3 separate regions of the Homo sapiens genome follow, and regions 1 and 3 are each linked to region 2. The links come from fine-mapping of genetic effects on gene expression. A gene starts in region 2. Each other region holds a variant in brackets. All regions are shown on one strand. Distances are from middle to middle.

What was found. PIP is the estimated chance that this variant, and not a neighbour inherited with it, causes the effect.
Region 1: its variant is the best candidate, but not a certain one, in a credible set for the expression of GRK4 in ovary (GTEx, PIP 0.52).
Region 3: its variant is the best candidate, but not a certain one, in a credible set for the expression of GRK4 in testis (GTEx, PIP 0.52).

Annotation. Positions count from the first base shown.
Region 1 is chr4:3,311,051-3,317,329 of GRCh38, forward strand. RGS12 (regulator of G protein signaling 12) reads left to right here. Exons shown (of 18, transcript NM_001394154.1): 2 at 5,020-6,279. The coding sequence starts at 5,121. It also overlaps the pseudogene LOC100286945. Among named protein-coding and RNA genes, the nearest start is that of RGS12, 21 kb to the left of the region's middle. The variant C/T (reference allele first, on the strand shown) is at 3,582.
Region 2 is chr4:2,960,985-2,967,263 of GRCh38, forward strand. GRK4 (G protein-coupled receptor kinase 4) reads left to right here and starts at 2,587. Exons shown (of 16, transcript NM_182982.3): 1 at 2,587-3,138. The coding sequence starts at 3,087. NOP14 (NOP14 nucleolar protein) reads right to left here and starts at 2,422. Exons shown (of 18, transcript NM_001291978.2): 1 at 2,141-2,422. The coding sequence starts at 2,335. RefSeq lists enhancers at 980-1,049, 2,080-2,613, 2,614-3,147 and silencers at 2,610-3,039, 3,210-3,259.
Region 3 is chr4:3,026,413-3,032,691 of GRCh38, forward strand. It overlaps GRK4 (G protein-coupled receptor kinase 4), which reads left to right. Exons shown (of 16, transcript NM_182982.3): 11 at 1,500-1,589; 12 at 2,789-2,997. Among named protein-coding and RNA genes, the nearest start is that of HTT, 45 kb to the right of the region's middle. The variant C/A (reference allele first, on the strand shown) is at 2,658.

The sequences.
Region 1 (6,279 bases), 350 kb after region 2:
AAGTCCTGGCCGTGGCGGCTGCCATTGCAGCCCGTGGGGTCACCCTGGAGGCCGTGATTGCTGATGTTGTGCTGTTCTTGTGCCTTGCTCTCTTCTTCTCGGTGCCCCCAGACTCTCTCTGCCTTCGGAGGACGGCGTCTCTCTCGCCTCACACTGTGTGCACGGGCAGTGCGGACGGGTGCTGGCTTGGTCTTTCCAGCCCTGCCTCGCTCGGGGCCTGCTGCATCGTAGCTCAGGCCTAGGACCCATCTCTGTACCTGCAGGTCTTGGGTGCTGCCCGGCATGAGTGGAGGAGTTTATCAGAACAGGACCTTTTATAGGAGGTTTTAACTTTAGAAGGGAATAGAAAAGTGTCATGGCAGCAATATTTATTTCTAGATCACCCTGAGTTTTTTTTCTTTGTTTTGTTTTATTGTCCTCTTTACACCATGAGTTTTTAATGATGAATGAGTGAAGGAGTGACAGTGCGGGTTGAGCATCCCTTATCCAGATGCTCCAGAATCGGAAACCCTCTGACACCGATGTGGCACCTCAGGCATAGCTGAGCTAGTGACACCTTTGCTTTCTCATGGGTCAGTGTACACAAACCTTGTTTCATGCACAAAATTATCAAAAGTACCGCACAAAATTACCCTCAGGCTGTGTGTATAAGGTGTATATGAAACATAAATGAATTTCCTGTTCAGACCTGGGTCCTATCCAAACATATCTCATTACGTATATACAGATGTTCCGAATCAGAAAAAATCCACAGCCCTTCTGGTCCCAAAAATCTCTTCTAAGGGACACTCAGCCTGTGTGACGTGGTCGGTGACTCCTGATGGGAGGTGGCAGTGCTGTGCGGCGAGTGGGGACCTTCGTGTCACATCCCATCTGTGCCTCAGGGCTTGGATGAATTACTTCTGGCTGGACCTTGTTCCCTTTTCCACACAGTGAAGAGGCTGGGTTAAATGATCTCCAGTCAAGGTGATTCAGAGTTAGCTGGAAGGTGTGTAGGGGGAAGTTGGAGCTTCCTGGCCTTGCCCCAGACTTACTAAGTCAGAGTCCCTGGGAGGTGCAGGGGCTTGGGAGCAGGCGTTCTTACTGGTAGCCCCGATGGTGTAATGGAAGTTCAGCTGGAATCCAGTACCCCATGGTCTTCTAAATTTCACTGTCTGTTCTGCTAGCTTTACTATTAATTGATACAGTTTTAAAAAAAATTAAACTATAAGCTGAACTTATGTGATTATTTTGGGAGGCCAAGGTGGGAGGATTGCTTGAGGTCAGAAGTTTGAGACTAGTCTGGGCAACATAGTGAGACCTCGTCTACAGAAAAATTAAAACATTAGCCAAGGTTCACTGGGTGTCTTCTCCTTGGCCCCTTTGCCCACGTGGTGAACACTGTGGACCTGTGAGGGTGTGAGGGTTGCGTTCCTGCGTTCTGGACTCTTTACCCACTACTGAGAAGCAGCCGTTTGAAATATGAGTTGGCAAGGAAGATCAGCATGTAGGCTTAGACCAAGACGGTATGTGCAGCCTCCTGAGCTAACTGGGCCTGTGCTTGAGCCCAGTGATGAGCAGCCTCAGCAAGAGGAACCACCACCTGAAAGTCGGGGTCTTACCTGGCCAGGAGAGAGAGGAAGATCACGGTGCTGCTGAGATTCTTGTGCTTGACCAGGAAGCTGATCTCCGGGAGCTGTCTCAAAGACTGGGATGAATGTGGAGATGGTCCTGATGTCCGGGGAATATTCTGCCGAAATCAGAGCAATTTAAATTGCCAGAAGGAGGTGAAGGGCAACCACAGGTTCCAAGGAAGACAAGCTGAAACAATGCAAACTGGTTTTATATTAGATACGTGACTTAAAATATCTCAATACAGTTTTCTCCAAAAAAAAAAAAATAGTTAGCCGAGTATGGGGGTGTGCTTGGTATGGCTTGAGCCCAGGAGTGAGTTTGAGGCTGCACCGAGCAATGACTGTGCCACTGCACTCCAGTCTGGGCAATGGAGTGAGACCCTGTCTCTAAAAAATAAAAACAAAGAAACGTGATTATAGATAATAAGATATTACTTACATGAGTTACAAACCATTTCTTTTTAATAAGCAGAGGCCCATGACAGTAAGAGTCTAGTAGAAAAATTGGGTGGACTGCATAGAAGACATTGTCCATCATTATGTCACACAGTGTGAGGCGGATGGTGCGAATAAACTGGGAAGTCATGTCTTTCATTGAGGCAGCATCTATTCCTGTTTGGAAGAGAAAGCCGAGAGGTGTTCTGTTCCCCGAGGAAGCCATCAAGGCTTCATGACCTGCTGTCCTGGGGCTGTTCACAGTGATAGCTGGCACTTGCCGGGAACAGCAGCACCTTTGTTGTGTGACAGATGCTTTTCTGAGCGTGCTTTAGTGAGACCGTTTCACGCATGTCCTGCTTTCCCTCTCCCCTCACCCGTGACAAAGTGATTCCCCCTTGTATTTGTTTCCTGGGGTTGCTGAAAGAAATTACTGCAAACTGGGGGGCTTAAGACAACACACATTCATTCTCCTGCGTTTTCGGGGGCCTCGTGTCTGCAGTCAGTGTGACCTGGCTGATGGCAGGTGTGGCAGAGCTGGTTCCTCTGGTGACTTTAAGTCTGCTTCCTTCACCTTTCCGGCTTCTGGAGGTGACCGCCTGCCCGTCTGCCTGGGCTCGAGACCCATCCTTGAATCCCTGCAGTCTCCGCATCCTTCCTCATGTGGCCGTCCCCTCTGGCTCTGACCCCAGGCTCACACAGGCGCACCCCACACTCTCCCCATCTCTAGAGCCTTCACGTGGTCACGTGGATGGGAGGAGCCATCCAAAAGCTTGGGAGTGAGGATGTGGGTGTATCAGGGGCCATCAGCCAGCCTGTCACACCTCTTAAGAAGATCGATCCCCAGACGTGTTTCTTGGCCAACTTTTACATTTATTTATTTATTTTTTAATGATGATTTTTAATAATTTTTAATTATTAAAAAATTATAAAATAATTTTAATTATTTTATTTTTTAAATTCATTTTTTAATGATTTTAAATAGTTAAATGCCCAGTCCTAATATTTAAATTATTAATACAGTACTACTTAGATATTGAGTAATGTAATTTATATTCATTTTTTACTCTTTTCCATCAAAACATAATTTTACTAAGTACGCATGTTCTGTGTCCGTGTTTTGTCATCACTGAAGCCACTTTTGGAGTCACCTAGTAATAGCCTTTCCACTCTATCTAGTTCTGTAGCTTTTATGTGTGTAAATTACTTCAAATCTGTTTATGATCCTATTGCTGGAAACTTTATCCCAAGACACAAAAATCTTTTCTATTAGAAGTTATTAACTTTAAAACAATTATTTATTTTATTTTATTTTATTTTTTGAGACAGAGTCTCGCTTTGTCACCCAGGCTGGAGTGCAGTGGCACGATCTCGGCTCACTGCAAGCTCCACCTCCCGAGTTCATGCCATTCTCCTGCCTCAGCCTCCCGAGTAGCTGGGACTACGGGCGTCCGCCACCATGCCCAGCTAATTTTTTTTGTATTTTTGGTAGAGACAAGGTTTCACCGTGTTAGCCAGGATGGTCTTGATCTC[C/T]TGACCTCGTGGTCCACCTGCCTCGGCCTCCCAAAGCGCTGGGATTATAGGCGTGAGCCACCGCACCTGGCCTAAAACAATTATTTCTTTAAAAAAACATACCCTCTATTCTATTTTGTGTCTTCACAACACAATCACTTACTGTATTGCTTTTTAAAGTGATCTTTAAAGAGTCTTGCAGAAGAGACTACACAGCAGGCCCGAGACCATCCTGAGAGGCCTGTGTGCAAGGCTGGCCCCCCGCTGGTGTCAGGACGGTGCCCACCACCCTCAATGAAGAGGGGCTCCCTGTGCTTAGCTGCTTGTGTGGGGAACAAGGTTTGTGCTGAGAACCTTCCTTTCTTCTGGGAGTCCAGAGTCTGGGCACGAAGCAGGCAGAGGGTGCCCATGTGCCCAGCCCCCAGTAAAAACCCTGGCACCGAGTCTCTAGTGGGCTTCCCTGGTGACGACACTGCACATGCGTTGTCACGGCTCACTGTGTAGGGAGTTAAGTGCGTCCTGCGTGACCCCGCTGGGAGAGGATTCTGGAAGCTCAAGCCTGGTTTCTTTGGGACATCGCCCCATGGACCTCTGCCCTTGCTGATTTTGTGTGGAATCCTTTCGCTGTAATGAATCTCAGCTGTGAGAGCACCTTTGTGCCAAGTCCTGGGAATCCTAGGGAATCACTGGCCTGGGGGTGATCCGCGGACCACTGACAAGTTTGTTCTCAATGACAACCAATACTTTTATACCCCCTGGAAGAATTGAGTTAATATGACATTTCTGCTTTTTTAGGTGGTGGTTTTTATCTAGCCTGTTGAGTGGCCTCTGCAGTATTGATCGAGGTTGTTTCAGGCTAATACGTTTTCCCCCACACAGTATATTCAAAATAAATTAATGTGGGAGGGTCATGGAATATTAGGTGACCCCTCTCCTGAGGGAAAACTCTATGTCAGGGGATTTATGATCAACTAAGGGGTTAGACTCAGTGTTCTGCAGGTGCCTTTGAACCTGAAGCCTGTAGCAGGCCTTGCTTCTCACGCTTGGACTCTGCCATCCTGTGAAACGTGGGTTTGGGTGTGTTTCTTCTGTGTGGAGCCCGAGAGTCTGCCTTTCAGACGGGCTGCCAGTCCACGGACCACACTTTGAGTAGCAAGGGGCTCTTTCCATCCAAACAGGGTGTGGAAGCAGTGCTGGGAAGCAGTCCTGCATCCTCACACCCGTGGCAGGTGGGCCTGGCAGGAACTTGTGTGGTAACAAGGTAGCAGTTGTGGGAGACATTTTCTACTCCGAAAGGAAGTTTCTTAGCCTGACTTGAAGATTTATTATCTATAGACACTTAGAGGCTCTTTCTGTGGTGGTTTTTATTATGAATTATCTTTTTGTGTTTAGCTAATACCAGTGAGTGGTGGAGAAAGATGGGCTCTTTAATAATGAGCTGTTCGTTTTTCTTTCTTAGGGCACTGTTTGAAGAAGCAAACATGGTAGCATCAAGCATTCCTTGAAATATGGCTCCAAGGGAACAATGAGACGTGCTCTTGGTCTTGGAAGCTCATCAGAATGTTTAGAGCTGGGGAGGCCTCCAAACGCCCATTGCCTGGGCCGTCGCCCCCAAGGGTGCGGAGTGTGGAGGTTGCCCGGGGGAGGGCCGGCTACGGATTCACGCTTTCGGGACAGGCACCCTGTGTGCTCAGCTGCGTCATGAGAGGGAGCCCTGCGGATTTCGTGGGCCTCCGAGCTGGAGACCAGATACTTGCTGTCAATGAAATCAACGTGAAAAAAGCATCTCATGAAGATGTAGTGAAATTAATTGGGAAGTGCTCTGGTGTCCTTCACATGGTGATTGCTGAAGGCGTCGGCCGCTTCGAATCCTGTTCCAGTGATGAAGAAGGGGGACTCTATGAAGGAAAAGGCTGGCTGAAGCCCAAGCTGGATTCTAAAGCACTAGGTATAAACAGAGCAGAGCGAGTCGTGGAGGAAATGCAGTCTGGTGGAATTTTCAATATGATTTTTGAAAACCCGAGCCTTTGTGCGAGCAATTCAGAGCCCTTGAAATTGAAACAAAGATCCCTTTCAGAGTCGGCCGCAACTCGATTTGATGTTGGACATGAAAGTATAAATAATCCAAATCCCAACATGCTTTCTAAGGAGGAAATATCAAAAGTTATTCATGATGATTCGGTTTTCAGCATTGGACTAGAAAGTCATGACGATTTTGCATTGGATGCAAGTATTTTAAACGTGGCGATGATCGTGGGCTACTTAGGCTCCATTGAGCTTCCTTCCACGAGCTCCAACCTGGAGTCCGACAGCTTGCAAGCCATCCGCGGCTGCATGCGGCGCCTGCGGGCAGAGCAGAAAATCCACTCGCTGGTGACCATGAAGATCATGCACGACTGTGTGCAGCTGAGCACTGACAAGGCTGGAGTCGTGGCCGAGTACCCGGCCGAGAAGCTGGCCTTCAGCGCCGTGTGCCCGGACGACCGGCGATTTTTCGGGTTGGTTACCATGCAGACGAATGACGACGGGAGCCTGGCCCAGGAGGAGGAGGGCGCCCTGCGGACTTCCTGCCACGTGTTCATGGTGGACCCAGACTTGTTTAATCACAAGATCCACCAAGGCATTGCTCGGCGGTTTGGGTTTGAGTGCACGGCCGACCCAGACACCAATGGCTGTCTGGAATTCCCGGCGTCCTCCCTCCCCGTCCTGCAGTTCATCT
Region 2 (6,279 bases):
ATATCGATATTATTTTAATATTATATCAATATTATTATATTAATATTATATCAATATTATATTAATACTACATCAATATTATATTAATACTATATTAATATTATAATAATATATTAATATTTTAATAATATATTAATATTATAATAATATATTAATATACTAATATAATAATATATTAATATGCTATTACAATAATATATTAATATGCTAATATTATAATAATATATTAATATATTAATATTGTTAGTATATTAATATATAGTAACTATATTAATAATATAGTTAGTATATTAATATATAGTAACTATATTAATATAGTTACTGATTTAAGAACTACATTAATATAACTTATTTTATAAATTATTTCAGAAATAAGGAAACTGAGGCACAGCTATAAAGCAATGTCCTGAGACTGGCACCTGGGGGCTGCCCTCTTCCTGCCAGACTGAGTGCCTCAGAGTGCTACAACTGACCAGAGGGGAGAAGCCAACTGAGGCAGCCTGTTTACTTCTAAGGGACTAACCCACATGAAAAGACCCAGGCCTCCTGCGCCGGCCTCACGGCCCCTACACGCGTTATCAAGCTTGGAGTCAACTGGACGACCTGCTGTCCCTCAGACAGCTGTGAGTGCCACACTTCACCATACCGGGACAATGTGCCTTTGCATGTGTGTCCTCTGCCCACCCTGGGCCCATGAACAGCTCACTCCCCTTGCAAAACTTGACTGTAACTCCCTCTAGAAGAATTTTTGGACTTTCCTAACTATTACACTTTTTCCTGACCGGGATCTCCTAAGGCACTCAGGTTCCATCTTTGATTTCTTCAAATATTTGTGTTTCTTCCAAGGGCCAAGCATTGGAGATCCAAAAAGGAGCAGCAATTCCCGTCCCCGTCCCAGGCCTTCAGCACAGGGCAGGGAGGTGGATCTGCTCAATACCAGAAGTTTGAGCAACCTGTCCTATTTGGGTTACATAGCTTGGGTGGTGAACCTGAGCTGGCCCTTTAGAGACTTTCGGAGGTAAGGCAGACCTTTTGGACAAACTGAGTTGCAAGAGGCGAAGCAAGGACAACAGCCAGACTGTGCGGGACTCGAACGACAAGCCAAGAAGGTTAAGAATAACAGTATTTAGAGAACACTTGCTGTGTGCTCTATGTGCTATCTTACTTAATTCTCACAAACCACCACGAGGGGTAGGATGTATACTATCATCTCTACTTTTGAAATGAGAAAACTGAGGCTTCAGTGGTGAAGACAAATGTGTCTCTTCTAGGGAACCACACTACCTTATTCTCCCACCCCGGCCCGGGGGTGTGTAATGAGGGACTCCTATCGAAGTCAGCTGTAAGTCTATCTTGCCTATTCATTATACAGGCTGTCGTCTTCGCGCAGTAAGGATAATATGTGTTTTGATTCAAAGACCATCCAGCTTGCACACTGTGATGAACAGAGATCAGGAGCTCATGAAGGCAAGGGCAAGTCTTATTTACCTTTATCTCCCCGAACCTAGAAGCGAGGTCAAACAGAAGCGCTCGGGGTAGCAAGAAGGCTTTGTAGATATTGAAATGTGAATGCATGCCCAGCCCTTACCAGGTGCGTGACCTTAGGAAATGCACTTGTCCTTTCTGTGCCTTAATTTTTTCACCAACCTGCTAATGTATGTTCCTCAGTGAAAATTTAAAAAAAAAAAAGTTAAAAAAACTAGGAAGCAATGAGTTTCCATAGAGTTACTTCCCAAGGAACAAGGTTACGCGCTTCGGGAGAGAGCCGATGAAACATCAAACGCAGCATCCTACACAGCCCCTATCCACCGTCCCCAAACCTGCAGAGCTCAAAGTAAACGCGGAAGGGTTAACAAGCAGCTTGGTCCAGGGCGCCGCCCGAAGTGACTGACTCGGCCTGACCCGGTTGGAGGAGTCGCCGAAATAACACGAGTGCAGGGTCTCCAAGACGGCGAGAGTTTCCAGGTCACTCCAGCTCAGAGAACAGCAGAGGCTTTCGGACTATCAAGTCAGTGCCGTGTGCCTGTCACGGCCTGTGCCGCTCAACGAGGAAACCGACGCACCGAGAAGGACGCAGCCGGCCGAGAGCAGCGTGGGGTCCAGATCCTGCCTTCCGGCTCCCCGTGCGCCCCCCGCTTACCTTCCTGAGGGCCCGTGCGCGAGACACCCCGGGCAGTCCCACGTCGTGGCGCGTCTTCCGGCCCAGGATCTGGAACTTCTGCCTGTTAACTTTCACCTCGAACGGATTGGAGTTGGCCTTCGCCGGGCCCCCTCGCGCTCCCGCCGGCGCCCCGGAGGCCTTCCTTCGCGCCCCGACCTTCTTCGCCTTCGCCATGGCGCGCGCCCCGCTGCGCCCAAGGGCCCGAGACCCGAAGAGAGACAGGCGCGCGCTACCCTAAGACACGTGCCGGGCCGCGGAACCGCTTCCTCGTCTCGCGAGAACAGCGCAGCACCTCCGACTCGCGAGAAGTAAACACCGCGCCCGCAGGCTCGGCTTACTCGCCGATAGGCTCAGCGACTACAACTCCCAGCAGGCCACGCGCCGCGGCCCGCCGTGTACTCTTGGCGCAGGGCCTTCTGGGAGCTGTAGTGCCCCGGCCGCGGCGGCGAGGGGCGCTCCCTCTTCAGCTAAGCCGTTAGCGCCGAGCCCGCCCGGGAGCGGGTCGCCGGCCGCGGCGGGCGCCCCTGCCAGTGAGCCCCTGTCCGAAGTGAGCCACGGCATTGACTCGGGGCTGCCCGGGGGCAGGGCACTGAGGAGGGAGTTGCGCGCGCGAGGCGAGGGCGATGGGGCCAAGAAGAACCGGGGCGATAGCGCGGCAGCGGTGACAGCTGGGACCCGCCGCGGTCGGGCTGCCCCCTCCCCTCGCCCCGACCGCTCCCCTGCTGGTGAGGGCCTGCGGAGGCGGCGGCGGCGGCGCCCTTGGTGGCAGTGGTGGCGGCGGAGCAGCCTCCCGGGATCGTGTCCGGAGCTCGAGGAGAGGGTGGTGCCCGGCGAGCTATGCACGGGGGCGGCGGCGTCTCCTCCTGTTCCGCCTCCTCAGTCTCCTCGGTCTCGCAGAATCCGCCGGCGGCGGCGGCGCCAGGACATGGAGCTCGAGAACATCGTGGCCAACTCGCTGCTGCTGAAAGCGCGTCAAGGTGGGTGCGCGGCAGGCGCCCCCGACCCCCCCCCCAGAGAACCCCGAATCCCGGGGAACCCTGGCCCCCCTGAAGGAACCCGACATCCCCGGAGAACCCCGATTTCCCTGGAGAGCCCCGACACCTCCCACTGGGGGAACCCAGATCTGCACGGAGCCGGAGCCGGGGTCTGTGCAGTGTGGTCAGGCTGCCCGGGCCAGGTCCCAGTCCCCATCTCCTGGCCCAGATGAGAGAAGTCTGCGCTTTGCTCTTCTTAGTCTTGCCCTGTGTCCTTGTCCTGTCCTCTCGGTGTGACCTCGGTGACAGTGTTGCTTCAGGATGCGGCAGGCAGTGTCCTGCTTGTGTTGGACAACCTGTCCCACCAAAAAAGAACGGCGTCTTTATGGTCTTAAGGGGGACAAAGAATAGCAGCCTGGGAACTACTCTGGGCGAGAACCTTCCGATAATGATTGTAGGGCAATGTTATTTTTAACATAGCTGCTTGGTTTTGAGGTTTGATCTGAGGCTCTATGGTGTGTCAAGTGTGCTTTAGCACGACGTGGTCACAGATGGACAAGTTGGCAAAAATTCAGCCTTTTATCATTATTAAAGTGAGGCAGAAATTTAAAAATAGTAATAAGTACTGCATTCATTCACTCCAAGAAAAGAAAAAGCCAAGGCCCAGAATGTGGCAAGGCAAGGGTTAAAAAGAAAAGAAGAACAAGTTTTCTTTTGCTTAGCAAGCTCACTTTAAGGACAGTTATAAGATAACGCTGTTCTGTTTGAGAAGTCGAATCCAAAGGAATAGGCTCCAGACACCCCCCTTCCAGAGCAGGGGTGAAGAAAAAAAAAAAAGAGGACAAATATCTGTGTTTAGCCAGTTCTTGGTTTTTTCTTTCAACGCAGCTACAAGGCCACCAGCTATGCAAGGCCACAAGTTATGCCAAGTCATCAGTTATGCTATAGATTATGTGACCTGTCATTATATGATTAACTGCCTTTGTTTTGCTTCTGTAAGTTTGCTTATAAAAATCCTGCTTAGTCTTTGTTCAAGGCTCAGCTTTTTGGATGTGAATCCACTGAGCTGGTGCGTACCTTAACATAAATATCCTCCTGTTTTCACCCATGCTGGTCTCTCTAGTCCTCTGCATCCCGCCACAAAAGCATCAGTTGGTCCAGCCCTTCAGCGGGAGACCCCCACAATCCTCTGTGCAATCCTCTGTCTCGGACCTCATGTCTCCCTTGCCTGCGTCTCAAGAGAGCTGGCGACAGAGCCTCGGACCTCAAGTCCCTGTGCTAGCCACGGTAGTTCTTCACACCCCGTCACTCTTACGGAATTGCTGATTTCCTCTATTTCCTTGCGTGATGGAGCAGCTCTGCTCGGACTGTGCTCCAGGACAGTGTAAATGCCGACTGAAGATGCCACAGCAGCCGGCGATGCATATTTAAAGGACAGTCTGGAGCCGAAGGTGGCGGCCACGCTTGTAGTCCCAGCTACTCTGGAAGCTGAGGTGGAAGGCTCACTTGGGCCCAGGAGAGTCCAGCCTGGGCAAAACACAGCAAGACCATCTCTTTAAAAAAGTCTAAAACAAAGACTTCATCTTCTCAGTATTTTTGTGCACCAACTCACACTATTTTGAATAGAAGAACTGAGAATGGGTGGGAAGAGAATGGGATCTTTTTCCCTTAAGATAATCAGGGAGTCCCAGAGCAGTATGCGTTCTCAGCAGCCATTTTCAGTGGAGCATTTGACTGTGCCTCTTATCCCTGACTGTGAACTCCAAATAGGTCATGGAAAATAATCATCCTTAGTGGAAGTCAGATTGAAGCTAAGCCAGTTTTCTTTTTACACTACCTTCCTATCTGCATGTAATTTACAAAAAGGAACTATACCAAGCCGCCTTCCTTATAATGCTGCAGAGATTAGATAATGAGATAAATACAAGTGCTCTATAAATGCTAAATAACATAAAACCAGATTCTGTCACAAAACCTAAGACCACAGTGATAGTTTGAAAAATGAAAGTTTTGGCCGGGCACGGTGGCTCACAGCTGTAATCCCAGCACTTTTGGAGGCCGAGGCGGGCGGATCACAAGGTCAGGAGATTGAGACCATCCTGGCTAACATGGTGAAACCCCGTCTCTACTAAAAATACAAAAATTAGCCGGGCGTGGTGGCGGGCGCCTGTAGTCCCAGCTACATGGGAGGCTGAGGCAGGAGAATGGCGTGAACCCTGGAGGCAGAGCTTGCAGTGAGCCGAGATCGCGCCACGGCACTCCAGCCTGGGTGACAGAGCGAGACTCCGTCTCGAAAAAAAAAAAAAAGAAAGTTTTAATTTTTTCCCTGAAATATCTCATATTAACTCCACAGTAGTGTGATTATGAGGCCTGTCCCCATTGAGTGAGAGTATTTGCTCCTGTGGTCAGAAAGCATCATTATGTATAGCTTGATTAATGGTTAGAGAAGTTGAATATATAATATTAGATATACATGGATACATGCTGAGTATTGGTTATAATTTAGGGCTTTTTCCCAAGTTGATGACTGTGTTTGTTACTTTAAAGTATCTCCCAGGAAGTACCAGGAGGTGTCTTCTTGGACACATAACTTCATGGACAGCTCCTTGTTTAGCTTCACTGGCTCATATACTAGAAAATTAACCTTTGAAATGAATGAACGTAGCACAAGAGTTATATTCTGGTCCTGAGAAGCGCAATGTTGATTTAATATTATTAGTGAGTCCGGTCATTTCCTGGATTTATTTCAAATAGAATCAGTCAGTCTCAATCCCCCCTCCCTCTCTGGTCCCTGCTATGGTCTGAATATTTGTGTTCCCCCAAAATTCTTATGTTGAAATCTTCACTACGAAGGGGATGGAATTAGGAGGTGGGGCATTTGGGAGGTGATTGGGTCATGAGAGTGGAACCCTCGTGAATGGTATTAGTGCCTTTATAAAAGAAACTAGAGAGACACCCCTCACTCCTTCTACCATGGACACAGAAAGAAGATGCCAGCTATGAATCAGAAAGTGGGCCCTCACCAGACACCAAATCTGTCTTGATCTTGGACTTTTTAGCTTCCAGAACTGTGAGAAATACATTTCTGCAATTTATAAGCTACTCAGTTTATAGTATTTTGTTAGAGCAGCTTGAACAGACTAA
Region 3 (6,279 bases), 65 kb after region 2:
TAGCACTCTACTTAAATGAAAAATACACGAAAGCTGGCCAGGCACGGTGGCTCACGCCTGTAATCCCAGCACTTTGGGAGGCCAGGGTGGGAGGATCGCTTGAGCCCAGGAGTTCAAGACCAGCCTGGGCAACATGACCAAACCCTGTCTCTACAAAAGAAAAGAAAAGAAAATGAAATGTGGATTATTGAAAGAATGCATCTGTACAAGGGGAGGAAACTGAGACATGATAGTACATGGCAGAGCCAGGACTCAGACCCACGCCATCGGGCTGGGTCTGTGCTCCTCACCCCTGTGCTCTCCCGCCTCCCAGGGTGGGCGCGCAGCAAGGGCGGGGTGTGGTGTATCACGTGCATGCATCTGAGTCAGAGGCCGGCTTTCCTCTCTAAAGCATCATGCAGACTGTTTTAAAATGACTACAGTGCCTTGGAGGGCATGTCGCATATTTTTAGTTTTTAGCAAACATTTATTGGTTATTCATTCATTTCACCAATAAATATTTATTGAGCACCTACTGTAGGCCAGGGTATGATATTAGAAGCTGAGGATAAGTGGTGAATAAGTTGAAGATAGTGTCCGCTTCCAGGGCTGGCTAATCTTTCTACACACTCAACAGAATGTTTTCGATAATTTCGTATTTTCTTTATAATTTTTTTGAGACAGATTCTCACTCTTGCCCTGCAGTGGTGTGATCATGGTTCACCGCAGCCTCGACCTTCTGGGCTTAAGCGATCCTCCTGCCTCAGCCTCCAGAGTAGCTGGGACCATAGCCATGTGCCATCACACCCAGCTAATTTTTTTAAAAATCTTTTTTTATAGAGACAGGGTCTTGTCATGTTTCCCAGGCTGGTCTCAAAATGTGGAACTCAAGTAATCCTCCGACCTTGGCCTCCCAAAGTGCTGGAATTACAGGTGTGAACCACCGTGTCTGGCCTAATTTGTTAGTTCCATAGGAATTCAACAAATATTTAAATCCTTCTATATTCAACGCATTAACACATAATATAGTTCCCTAAGTACCTTAATTTTGTTTATTATTTCCCTGACTCTATTACCATTTGTTCTCAAGAGAATAACTCCATATCATTCATGTGTAGCTGTCCCTGTGTATAGTACTGGTACTCTGACAGAAAGTATTTATTTACTGTTCTGTAGTTGATATAATATTCATTATATTTTTATTGATGTACCTGGAAGTTGTATGACATAAAATAATAAATCCAGTGTTTCTGTCTTATCAAGTGGTGGCCTATGATTAAAGGGCTTCCTGATCAATAGCCAGGCAAAAATCGAATTTTCCTGCTGCTAGTGAAAATGCATTGTATGGAATTTTACTAAACATGAAAAAGTTAAATGCCATTTTACGTTTACTGTTCCAGAGTATGAAATGCTATTATTTCCAGCCATGGTTTTTGAGGGGCCTTTTTTCCCATTTTAATTGTTGTTACGGTGTCATTACTTCCCCCGTGACCTGTGTAATAACATATTTGAACACACAGGACACATCCGGATTTCAGACCTCGGTTTGGCCACAGAGATCCCAGAAGGACAGAGGGTTCGAGGAAGAGTTGGAACAGTCGGCTACATGGGTTCGTGAGAGGCTTTCGGCGTCCTTGTCCTTTCTATCCGGGTGCCTGAGTGCCTCAGAACACAGAGAAATCCACCCTGAATGGACCGGGGCCTCGGTTTGGACACACTAGTAGATGGCGCAGTGGTGTTTTGAATCTCTAACCTGTCAGAGTGTTGAGGCTGCTGGGGATCCTGTAGGCTGCCCTCAGCTTCTTACAGATGAGGGGTGAGGCCTGAGAGGTTGTGAGTCCTGAGGTCACTCAGCGAAGTGAGGGCAGAATCGGGATGACACCGCAGGTCTCCTCACTCTACCAGTGTCCTCCCCTGTGCACCACGGCCTCTCGGAGCCTCAGGAAATCACCCCACTCTGGTTATTCCAAAGATCCGGGGGCAGTGCCAGCCAACCCCCAGGGGTGGCCTCTGAGAGCCTCGCAGAGTCCTGCAGGAAGACCCCAAGGTCTTGTGGCTTTCCGCTCTTGCGTCTTGTGGGGTTTTTCACTGCCCTGGGATAGATGGCAAGACGTGACACTTGGGGCGCCCTGGGCATGGCTCTGTGTGTCTGGAGGGAGCCCCTTCAGGAGGTGGAGCCTTCCCTAGACCACCATTTCCCTTGTGAATGTGACTCTGTGGCAATTCAGCTCATCTTGGATGAATCATACAAATGTTTAAAAATATTAGCTTTATTGGGATATAATTCATATATCATCAAGTCCACCAGTTTGAAGTGTGTAATACAACGGATTTTAGTATTTTCACAGAGTCATGCAACCATCACCACCATCTAATTTCACAACTTTTTTTTTTTTTTGAGACAGAGTCTCACTCAGTCGCCCAGGCTAGAATGCAGTGGCACAATCTTGGCTCACTGCAACGTCCACCTCCCAGGCACAAGCGATTCTCCTGCCTCAGCTTCCTGAGTATCTGGAACTACAGGCGCCTGCCGCCATACCTGGCTAATTTTTGTATTTTTAGTAGAGACAGGGTTTCACCATGTTGTCCAGGCTGGTCTCAAACTCCTGATCTCAGGTGATCTGCCTGCCTTCGCCTCCCAAAATGCTGGGATTATAGGTGTGAGCCACCGCTCCCAG[C/A]CTTAACATAATGTTTTTAAGGTTCGTCCATGTTGTCACACACGTTGAATGTATACTGTGTTACTGGGAATTATAAGAAAATTTAAAATCAAAATTTAACTTAATTTCCATTTCCTGTATTTGTTATGTAGCACCTGAAGTTGTCAATAATGAAAAGTATACGTTTAGTCCCGATTGGTGGGGACTTGGCTGTCTGATCTATGAAATGATTCAGGGACATTCTCCATTCAAAAAATACAAAGAGAAAGTCAAATGGGAGGAGGTCGATCAAAGAATCAAGAATGATACCGAGGAGTATTCTGAGAAGTTTTCAGAGGATGCCAAATCTATCTGCAGGATGGTAAGTCAGGCTCTGTAGAGGCTGGGAAATGGCACTTCTCACTCATTCTAGTTGTTTTCACTGGCAGCTATAACAAAAAAAATTGGTCTGTCATCTTCAGCAAGTCCTGGTCACCCACCTCCCAGGCCCTGCCCCTGCCCCTGCAGCCCAGTAGGGAGGACACGCGTGTTCAGGAGGCTCGGGTCCACCTGTGTCTTGGCCCAGCAGGGAGGACACGTGTGTTCAGGAGGCTCAGGTCCACCTGTCTCCTGGCCCAGCAGGGAGGACACGCGTGTTCAGGAGGCTCAGGTCCACCTGCCTCCTGGCCCAGCAGGGAGGACACATGTGCTCAGGAGGCTCACGTCAACCTGTCTCTTGGCCCAGCAGGGAGGACACGTTTGCTTAGGAAGCTCACGTCTACCTGCCTCCTTCCCCATGCTCCTGCCACTGGGATTTCATCAGACAAAAAGAGCCAGTGAGAAAAGTTTCCAGACATGATCTGGAAATGACTTAATTGGGTTTTGATTGGAGCAAAACACAGTAAAATTCATGGTTTGATTTCTCAAATAATGCTACTGAAAGGGAAGAGTGGTACCAAGGTTATTAATTCAGTTTTCAGAAAATAGCCAAGCCTTGTTTCATTGACCAATTTTATATGAAGTTAGACATAAAACCAATCTTTCATGTATTTTGAGGTGGGTAAGGGTTTAGCCACCTGCCAGGGATTGTAGTCCCAGAGACACTCTGACCTGAGGGCCTTCTGTGTGCCTGGCTCTGGGCCTGGTGCTGGACAGACCATTCCTTAACTGTGCTAAGGGCCTCTGAGGCTGACGGTGGCACCCGCGAGTCACAGCAAGGAGATGAGCCCCAAGCGGTGGAGACCTGGTCCCTGGTCCCAGAATGAGCCAGTGGCTGTCAGGGTCCATCTGCCTCTGGGACTGGACTGTGTTACCACCCCTCACTGCCCAGACACTCAATCAGTGAGGGAAACTCTCTTTGTTACTTACTTTAAACCAGTATTTTTTTAGCACATTTTTTTTTTCATTTATTTTCATTCAACAAGGATTTATTGAGCATCTTGTATGTTCCAGGCACCGTCCTAGGCATTGGGGGAAACAGCAGCAAATAGAACAGAAGTCCCCGCCCTGCCAGCGAGAACTGACAGGAAACAGAACAAATGCATAGACGTGTGGGCTGTGGGGAGGACCCGCACTCTGGAGGACGGGGAACTGCCTGGAGGGGCGGCAGGCTCTAGGGGGTGAGAGGGGGTCGGCCTGCTGGGCAGAGCAGACAGAGATTGTCTGCAATAGCAAGGCCACAGTGGCAGGCTGCTGGCAAGAGCAGGAGGGGGTTAGAGGGGGACGGGACAGAGAGCAGGAAGCCCAGGCCATGCTGAACCACCTGTCACTTGTTATTGTCATCATTGTCAAGCCTTGAGTGTTGCTTCCTCTGATGGCCATGAAGCCATCGCAGGGCTCTGTGAAGAGTGATGTGATGAGACTGGGCTTGCCGGCCACTGGGAGAGAATGAATGGACAGGGAGGAGGAAGGCCATTGGGGGCTTTGCAGCGATTCAGGTGAGAGTAAAGGTGACGCAGACCTCGGTGATGGCAGAGCAGGTGTGAGAAGTGATGGCAGATGACCGCTGTCAGATTCAGGATGGATCCTGAAGGCAGGTGGTGGAGAAGACTTCAGGCTGACTCCAAGATGGGCTGGAGGGAAGGGGGCACTCGCTGGAGCCAAGTCCTTGCAGTGGGGAGGACAGCAGCCAGCGCACGGGGAGTGTGTGGGCAGTTCCTCCAGTGACCGGAGAGGAGGCAGAGTCTGTGGCCAGTGCAGCACAGCTGGGGAGACGTGAGCAGGGCTGTGAACGGTCTCTTATGGAGCTTCTTTTTCTCAGATGGTCAGCCCCTAGTGGGGAGCAAAGGTGGGAGGCAGGTGTGAGGAAAGGGGAGGCTTGAAGGCTTGGAAAGCAGGGGTTTCCTCAACAGCATCAAGAGCCCATGCGGACCTGAAGGGAGGGGAGTGGCCGTGGTTGTGTGCTGGGCTTCTGCCACACCTGGACGGTGCAGGCTCAGAGCCAGCAGGGAGCTGCACTCGCCCAGCTCTGGTTTGTCCAGCAGCTAGAGAGAGGCCGGGGAGCTGGGCTGCATGCCAGGGAGTGACTAGAGGACAGACCATGGGCTCGACGCTGGCTCCAGTGGACGAGGAAATGGACACAGGGAACGGCAGGTTCAACAGGATGGGCAAAGCATGGTCCAAGTTGGGAGTCCATACACCTCCAGGCCAGAGTTAGAAAGATGAGAGGGACGCTCAGAGAGGAAGCTGCTTGGAGTGGAGCTGACAGAGTGCTTGCTGGCCAAGAGTCTGGGGTGTGACCAGGGAGAGAGTGGCTGGGGGTCACTGGGGGGATGGAGGATGAAGTCACTGGAGAAGAGAAGGCCACAGGACCAAGCAGCCAGGCATAGGCCCCTGCCTGGGTGTGGGCATTCCTAGCAGCTGTGCCTGGGTAACTGACATGGGCTGGCAGTGGCTGGAGAGGAGTTATTCTGATGTCCTTTTCATGTGTTTCCATATATGAAGCCATGGGTGCTACAGGCTCGTCCTGGAGCCAGGGGTCAGCCTGGAGTTCTCCCGGCTACCTCACTCTGCTTAGAGCTGACTGTTAAATAATGGAGTCTTCCTCCCACAGGACACTGACAGGGCTGCAAGAATGTATAAATATGTACCAGAAATGGAGTCTGCCCCTAAGAGCTCACAGTTTAATGTTAGGCCTAAAACAAACAGAAATGACTGCAGTGAAAAAGCAGAATGGGCCGGGTGCGGTGGCTCATGCTATAATCCCAGCACTTTGGGAGGTCAAGGCAGGTGGATCATGAGGTCAGGAGTTTGAGACCAGCCTGGCCAAGATGGTGAAATCCTATCTCTACTAAAAAAAAAATTAGCCAGGTGCGGTGGTGGGCGCCTGTAATCCCAGGTACTCGGAAGGCTGTGCCACTGCACTCCAGCCTGGCGACAGAGCATGACTCCGTCTCAAAAAAGAAAAAAGAAAAGAAAAAGCAGAATGCATACTTGTTCTGCTAGGCTCGGGGAGGGGAAGAAAAATAAAGCAGGATGCAATGGGTGTCGTAAGTGGATAGAAACAAAGGCTCAGGGGCTTTCAAGATGAAATCCGTGGTGTTGGAGGTGCTGGGAAAGGAGGTGTCTGAGTGAGGGCTCTGTGTGAGAAGCTCTAGCTTTGAAGTTAGGGCCAGGTGAGTCTCAGCTCCCATTACAGGATCATCTCTCCCAGCTCAGTTTCTCA